2 linked regions of the Homo sapiens genome follow. The protein of the gene in region 1 purifies or fractionates together with the protein of each later gene. This does not show direct contact. Each region holds a gene or a part of one and is shown in the gene's direction. Other genes may lie near its edges. The genes, in order: PFKFB4 and BDH2.

Region 1 (4,603 bases):
TTGGACTGATCCAAGGCAGGGCTGTGGCAGGGAGGGCATGGGAGGGGGTGCTACACCTATAGCCCACGAGGCCAGTCTTGTTGCCAGTCCCATGCCCTCAACACCTGGCTCCTGGCTGGGTACACACTGGGCAGAGAGAACCTGAGGATGCAGGGCACCTGCCAGGGGTGTTGTGGATGACATCGCTAGAGGGCAGTGTGGCTCAGGTTGAAGCCGTGTTGGTGGGGGCTGGGGCAGAGAGTGTACAAAGCTTGGAGAGGCGGGGCTGGGGATCCCGAGGAGGCGGGAAACTGCAGGAGTCCGGTGGGGGCCAAACAAGAAAGTGAGCCAGGGGTTTAGGAACTTCTGGATCTCTCCCTTGTTCCTTGTCCCCAGTGCATTTTCAAAGACAAGAGGGAGATACAAATATAGTAAAAGGCAACCATAACGTATTTTAAAATGAATTTCTTAGAGATTGACATACTTAATTTATACTGTAATACTGTAAGATAGACAATGTGCACATCCCATTTTCCTGAAGAGAAAATGTTATTAACATATTATTTTCAAAAAATATGTAAAACTTTAGTTAAAAAAACCAAAATACTAAAAATCAAAAAAAAATTGTAAAAAATGAAATTCTGGAAAGACGATTAAGATACTCCCAGGGCTTAGTGAGTACCCAAAGTACTTGGTTACTAAGTGCCACGCACGGCCGGGCGCGGTGGCTCACGCCTGTAATCCCAGCACTTTGGAAGGCTGAGGAGGGCGTATCACCTGAGGTCAGGAGTTCGAGACCAGCCCGGCCAACGTGGTGAAATCCCGCCTCTACTAAAAATACAAAAATTAGCAGGGCGTGGTGGTGGGCGCCTGTAATCCCAGCTACTTGGGAACCCGAGGCAGGAGCATCCCTTGAACCCGGGAGGCGGAGGTTGCAGTGAGCCAAGATAGCGCCATTGCACTCCAGCCTGGGCAACAGGAGCGAAACTCCGTCTCAAAAAAAAAAAGTCCCACGCATTTGCTCCCAGCAGCCAAAGCAAAGAAAGAGGAACAATATTGAAATGTGTTTTGAGTCTCTATCCATGAGGTAAAAGAGCTTTTCCAGCGTGGTTGAGCATGCTCCTATGGACGGCGGAAGAGTCCCGGGGCTCGGAGCAGTCAAGGGGGACCCCGAGGAGGGGCAGGAGGGCGCAGCGGAGTTGACGGCTGGGACTGCAGGCCTACTGGCCCCTGTCGGCTCTGACCAACCTGGCCGTGCGGGTCACGTAGGCCTCGTCCCACTGCATGAAAACCCCTCCCTCCTGGGGGCCCTGGGCTCCCTAGCAAGGAGGTAGCAGAATTCACGCGTGCCGCTGCTCAGGGATGCAGCGCCAGGGCGGAGCCCGTAGGTGGGGCCTATGCAAATCAGCGCGGGCAGGTTGGGAGAGCTGAGTTTGCGCATCCGGGGCGGGCCTGCACAATCCGGGCCTTGAACTGGGGCGGGACCAGTACAATCCGGAGTTGAGCATGCGCATTCTCGATCCTGGCCTGAAGAACTGGGCCCACTTGTTCCAAAACGGGCGGGTAGGTGAGTTGGGCATGCGTGGTCGGAGGCCGGGCCCCTTTCAGCTGGGGCGGAGCCTACTCACTCTGGGGCGGGACCTGCGGGAAGATAGACATGGGCTGTCGCGGCTTGAGGAGGGGCGGGGCCCAAGGGGCGGGACCTCGGGTGGCCCGAGGTGGCCCGGCTGCTGGGTTGGAAGCGGCGCAGTCCGACTCATCCCGGCCCCGGGATGGCGTCCCCACGGGAATTGACACAGAACCCCCTGAAGAAGATCTGGATGCCATACAGCAATGGGCGGCCCGCTCTGCACGCTTGCCAGCGCGGTGGTGAGGCGGGGTCCTCTGGGAGGAGGTGGGAGGTGCACCGGGATGGGTGGGTAGGGCGGCCTGGGCGGGGGTCTCGCATGGAGAAGGGGCGGGAGACAGATGGGGAACCGGGGACAGGTGAGGTTGCCGTGACTGGGGAGGCTGCTGGGGACAGGTGAGGCGGTCGTGACAGTGGTGGGCCAGAGACAGGTGTGGCAGAGCAGGGGGCGGGGACAGGTGTGTGGGGGCATATCGGCTTGGCGGTGGCTAGGTCTGGCCACCATCACCTCGGGGAGGGCTCTGGCCCCCTCGCTTCCCTCTCCAATCCCCATCGCCCCCAGTCTGGGGAGGACCCTGTGGGCACCCCAGGCCCTTCCCTCTCTCCTGGCCAAGGAGTGTGGGCCGGGTTGTTGGACTGGAACTGAGCTGTGTGGCCCTAGGTGAATTACTTGGCCTCTCTGAGCCCAGAACTTTCAAAGGTGGGCTAGTTTTCCAACAGGAGGAAGGGTGCCTCTTGGCCTTAAAGCTGAGCTTGGGCAGGAACTTCAGCAGAGATGTGCTCAGGATAGAGACAGAAAAGTATGCCGTGTGGGCCTGTGTCTGTGTCCCGGGACATGTAAGTATCCACCTGGGGTCATGGGTGTACAGTAAAACTGGAGAGTGAAACAGCTAGGAGAATGCTGAAATTCATGGAATTGTTAAGGGGCTCACCTCTCCTAGGGTCCCAGGTGTTTAAACCGCTTCCTTGAGTTTCTGCCTGTCCTTAAATGAGCTGGCAGTTTTTTTTTTTTTTAAGAGATGAGTCTCGCTCAGTGGCCCAAGCTGGAGCAAGTGCAGTGGCGCGATCATAGTTCACTGCAGCCACGACCTTCTGGGCTCAAGCAATCCTCCCACCTCAACCTCCCGATTAGCTGGGATTATAGGTGCGCCACCACACCCAGCTTTTTTTTTTCTTTTTTCTTTTTTTTTGTAGAGACAGGGTCTTGCTATGTTGTCTGGGCTGGTCTCCAACTCATGGCTTCAAGTGGATCCTCTGGCCTCGGCCTTCCGAAGTGTTGAGATTACAGGCGTGGGTCCTGGCCTGCAACTTTTTTATTACCAGGAAAAGAAAGATTTGTTTTAGGAGTAACTGAAACATTGTAATGAATTTGCAGCTTGTCCAGCACCTCAGAGAACATCTAGTTTAACAGACAGTGAAATGGAGATCAGGAGATTGAGTGACATGCCTGGGTCTCCCTGTGATCCTGCCTCTGCTTATGTATGATAAGCAAGGGGAGAGTTCTTTGTGCTCATCCTGCTGCAGCAGCCTGGAGCCATGGCTTTGATCATGATATGAGTCCTGGGGGAAGGGTGTGTGTATTTCTGGCCACACTGTGAGTCCTGGCAGGGGAAGGCCATGTTTCTGACCAGACCAAGTCGTGGTAACTCATGGCTTTGATTGTGATGTAGGTCCTGGTGGGGCTGTGCTGTCTATAATGCACACTCAGTCCTGAGGGCTATGGCCACCCCTCCTTTGAGACTCTTCTGGAGGCGGGGAGGCTGAGCCAGTCTGTGTTATTAGGGCTGTGTGGTCCTGACTTAGGGGGGTGGCTGCTATTACTACATAGGGGAAAGGAGTGAGGACCTGGACTTTTTTTTTTTTTTTTTTTTTGAGACGGAGTTTCACTCTTGTTGCCCAGGTTGTAGTGCAGTGGTCCTATCTCAGCTCACTGCAACCTCTACCTCCTGGGTTCAAGCAATTCTCCTGCCTCAGCCTTCCAAGTTGCTGGGATTACAGGTATGCGCCACCATGGCCGGCTAATTTTGTATTTTTAGTAGGATGGAGTTTCACCATGTTGGCCAGGCTCGTCTTGAATTCGTTATCTCTAATGATCTGCCCCCCTTGGCCTCCCAAAGTGTTGGGATTACAGGCATGAGCTGCCATGCCTAGCCAAGTCTGTGAGCCTTTAAGGAGTAGGTCCTCAATAAGCGGAGGCAGGGTATTCTGTCATCACTACCATTCTTTCTTTGCTTCTCACTACGTCTGAGTCAGGGATTGATGCATCAGCTCCAAGCCAACCCCCGTTACAGGTGAGAGGAAGCTGAGGCCCAATGGGAAGGTCTCATAGCTCCTGAGGCAGGGCTTGTGTTTCTCCAGGCTCTAAGTGTGGAACTGAAATGTGGCTCTGGCCTGAGCTGAGGGGCTCGTGCCATCACGGTGTCTCAGGGTGTTGGGGTAGGCTGGGTTCTAGGTCCGCACTTTTTCCTGGAGGAGGAGGTAGCACCTGAGAGGCCAAAGATGAGACCTGCAGGTTGTTTGGGGATTTGGGCCTCAGGGTTCACAGCAGGGAGTGGGTAAGCAGTGAATGAACATGGAACCCGCCCATGCAGCACCTCCAGCTCCCAGTGCCTGCATTTGGGCAACACTTTACCCTTTGCATAGTAGACTTGTAGGTTGAGTGACTGCAAGGACAGTCTGGACCCGGAGGGTGTGGGTGGGGATGGAAGCGGATTTGGTCCCAGGGCTTTGTGGGGAGGAAGAAGCAGGACCCACTGCTGGTCTGTGCTTTGTACTGGGTTTTCTCTGGAGTCTAGTCCCCAGCTCCTCAGGGCACTAGGGGCTGGTGGACTGAGGGATGTACTGCACCTCCTCCACTCCCACAGGCACGCCCCCGCTTGATAAAATTTAAAGCCACACCTGAGGGCTTGGGAGGCTTTTACCTTTCCCATCATTGGCCTCCGAGCTCAGACCTGGAGGAACTCTGAGGGCAGGTGGGGCAAGAGCTGACTCAAGAAG
Region 2 (3,810 bases), on another chromosome or scaffold:
ACTGGATACCCTTGACTAACAGAGTCATTTCTAATAAATAATGGAAATGACATAAAGGGGAAGCTCACAAATAGAAACAGTCTCTTATTCCAGAACACTTGCTCTTCTCCACCCCTCACTCAGACAAAATTCTGATTACTGTATAGGTACCAGCAACCCAGTCTCTGGCAGGGGAAGGATAGGGGAAGGACATCTTGAATATATGCAATTTTTATTTCTCAATTATACCTCAAAGAAGAGAAAATTAAGAGAAAAGCTGCAAAGAGGAGAAAATTAATGTTTGAAGTTTGTAAGAACTTCAAATGAGCCCATTTTCAGTTATTACTGCTGGCTTACTGAGAAACATCTAATGTACACCAGTCATTCTTTACTATAAAGCCATTGCTCAGAAAGGACCCTTATTATTCAACTTGGAAAATGGACAGAGAGGAAGGAAGAGGGACGGATGGGTTATTGGAGGAGTCAAGATGGACTTTAAGTTTACTAATGAGACTCTGAAGATTCTTAAGACCCTAGTAAGAAGGTCAGCAATCTATGAAGCCTAGCTGGATAGATGTTGCAATCTTCACACTTCACACTTCAAAACAGCTAAACCTTCAAGGCTAAACATTTTTAGGAATAGTGCCTCTTGTTTTATTTTTCAGGTATTCAAACTCGTGTCCTTGATGTCACAAAGAAGAAACAAATTGATCAGTTTGCCAATGAAGTTGAGAGACTTGATGTTCTCTTTAATGTTGCTGGGTAATTCATAACTTTTTAGTTTCACTTTCCTTACAGAAAGTTTTCTATGACTTTCATTCAAAGAATTTTCATAATGTGGCAAAATCATTCATTGTGAACCATGACATATTCCTTGGGAAATATGGCTAGATTTTACACAGCATTTTCATTACACATAAAATTCAGCAGGTAAGACAGCCTTAGAGTTTGACATGATCTGGGGCAAATGAGGTCTACTCAAGACAGATGGTACTGATACAAAGCTGTATTATGTGTTACAATGTATGGAAGTTAAATTAAAGCAATAATTTCTGATCATCTATTTTATAAATAGTCTTCCATCCTCATGTAAGAATACACCCAGAAACATGAAACAAATAGTTAGCAAAGTTAGTTTCTGAGCATCTATTAAATTTTCAGCCATGTAGGGGATGTAGAAATAATCATGTGGTTCCTGCTGTCATGAAACTGACATTCTGACTGAAATAGCAGAGCTTTGGTACATGGAAGTCACAGCCAACAATATTTTATAATGAATTACATAATTTGGGTCCAGAGGACCAAATCAGTAAGGGTTCCAGTGTTTTGGAAGCTTCCCTCAGAAAACGTAACTTGAAAAATAGTGAAAGCTACTTTACGGGTTTGTTTTGTTCTGCCTTAACGTCTCTCTTACAACAAACTAACATCTCTCAGTATGTTAGAACACTAGCAGTATCACTTTGCTGCTCTGAGATGTTCAGACACTTGTTTTCCTTGCAATTTTGATTTCCCTTGAGAATTCTAAATCTGTGCCACCTGAGGGCACTGTTGCTCTTGAAATAGGAATCACATAGGCAAATAGGGCAGATGTTTTTTCTCTCTCTCTTTTTTTTTTCTGAAACAGGGTTTGTCTTGGTTCCCCAGGCTAGAGGGCAGTGGAATGATCATAGCTCACTGCATCCTAAAACTCCTGGGCTCAAGTGGTCCTCTTGCCTCAGCCTTCAAAGTAGCTGAGGCTGCAGGTGTGTGCTACCATGCCTAGCCCTGTTCGCCTTTATTTGTTGTTTGTTTTTAATGGCATTGATGTTTCCAGCACAATTAATATAAAGCTTCTTATGTTCGGTGACCATACTTTTGTTTGGAAAACAAGGATCTTGTTTTCAGATGACATTTCTAGCTTAAGTTGTTGGGATTCTTACTAATATAATATACTAAGTGATACTATGAATTGTTTAAAGTCTTGATAAGGGAAAGAGACAGTGGTCTAAGTCACTAAGTGACAATAAAAATAATCAGCAGATGGAATAGAAAAATTTTAATGGCAGTTATTCTTCCATTGTTTAATCACTCTTCTAGTTTTGTCCATCATGGAACTGTCCTGGATTGTGAGGAGAAAGACTGGGACTTCTCGATGAATCTCAATGTGCGCAGCATGTACCTGATGATCAAGGCATTCCTTCCTAAAGTAAGACCACCACCACCACCACCAGGATAAGCACCACATTAGGTCTCTGTACTGGGCACACAGAAGGGATTCCCACATGTGCTGAAGAGTGATAATAACTAACACAATGATTAACTTGCATTGAACATTTATATCAAGGCATTTCACATAAATTAATCTATTTAACCTTCCAGCTCATCCACTCAAGGAATATTTATTAAGCACTTTCCACATGCCAGGCTCCATTCTAGGCACAGAAGACACATAAGTGAACTAAACAAAGTGCCTTCTATAAGGCAGGTTCCATTATTGGGGGTGAGATGGGACAATTAGTAATCAAATAGACATAGAATATGTGGCGTGGTTTTAAATATAATGAAGAGAAAGAAGCTAGGATATCAATGCGGCCCCTCTGGACTCCACCGCAAAGGTGAAACTGGCATAGCAGTCCAAGAAGTGAGACAGCTGATCATTCAGGTACCTTGGGAGATGATTCCAGGCAGAGGTAACAGCAGGGAGGCACACGAGACTGGAATGATCGTATGAGGTAGATACTATTATCTCATCCATTGTTCAGAAGATGAAACTGAGAGTTCAGACAACTTGCTCAAGGTCACCCAACTAGCACATGGTTAGAACCAAGATTTGAAGCCTGGACGTTGAGCCCCTTCGTGAATTTCAGTCTAGGCTCACACTCTCAAGAGGGATGTACCCCATTGCTTTTCTCTGCCCTGAAGCTTCTCCCTTCGCTCTTGTTTTGATCTGAACCACAGTGGTACTGGGCAGGTGAGAGACAGTGTGTGCTCAAGACAGCATTCCTCCTTGAATTCTCAAGCCTTCACACAACGCATCAATGTTTAAAATTTTATTTTATAAACTAGCATTAAGTACCTCTTGGTATAAATCACTATATAAAGTGTTCTAGGGGAGTATAAACATGAGCAGCGTACATCCCTGATTTCAAATGAGCTTATAAACCAGTAGTAGCAGACAGTGCAGGCTGAGACAATGAAAGGGGTTGACTGGGTACAGAGCCAGCTCAACTCAAGGTTGTAAATTGAACCTAGTGAAATGCAGAAGAACAACTTTTCCCTTCCATCCCAGCTGGATTTGATGTCCTGTCCATGTCTGGGCAGGAGAAGAGCTTTGTTAATGGCACAGCAGGGCTGATATTCTACTCTGAATATTCAACCTAATGTTAAGAAGGTTCCAGATGAACATTAACAGGAAAATTAGAGAAACTGACTTAGTAATGAAGGGACTTTGAAAAATCTACTTGTTTAGTGCTTAGAAGGGATTTTTGGGTGGGTCCACAGAATGTTGAACTAGCAAATTTTTATAACAAATTGTTTTTTTTAATGTAAGTTGATTTTTTAGCCTATTTGGAGTTTATGAGAAACTATAGTATTTGGAACACGAATGTATTTTTGAAGACAGATCCTTTGCATAGGTTACAGGGGTAGAGCAGAGACTGTGGTATAGGAGGAAAGCTTAGGTCATCGTGGGTAAGACTGTTGCACATGCATGAGACTCATTTGCAAAACCAGGCTCTAAAATGCTTTACAAATTTTAGTAAAGGAAGTAGGTGTGGAGTACAGTGGAGCTGAAATGTAAACTTGTGTTAATTTTTAAAATATACAAACATTAACTTGCAAACTAGTGAGTTT

The links.
Region 2: the proteins of PFKFB4 (region 1) and BDH2 purify together in Homo sapiens (affinity purification with mass spectrometry, with the first as the bait; one large-scale study listed by BioGRID). This does not show direct contact.

Annotation. Positions count from the first base shown.
Region 1 is NC_000003.12:48,553,926-48,558,528, reverse strand, and holds the start of PFKFB4 (6-phosphofructo-2-kinase/fructose-2,6-bisphosphatase 4), read left to right. Parts: upstream 1-1,725; 5' UTR 1,726-1,751; coding exon 1,752-1,848; intron 1,849-2,295; coding exon of another isoform or gene 2,296-2,443; intron 2,444-3,585; exon of another isoform or gene 3,586-3,604; intron 3,605-4,519; exon of another isoform or gene 4,520-4,603. UniProt on the Homo sapiens protein: Synthesis and degradation of fructose 2,6-bisphosphate.
Region 2 is NC_000004.12:103,089,531-103,093,340, reverse strand, and holds part of BDH2 (dehydrogenase/reductase SDR family member 6), read left to right. Parts: intron 1-644; coding exon 645-741; intron 742-2,055; coding exon 2,056-2,164; intron 2,165-3,810. UniProt on the Homo sapiens protein: NAD(H)-dependent dehydrogenase/reductase with a preference for cyclic substrates. Catalyzes stereoselective conversion of 4-oxo-L-proline to cis-4-hydroxy-L-proline, likely a detoxification mechanism for ketoprolines.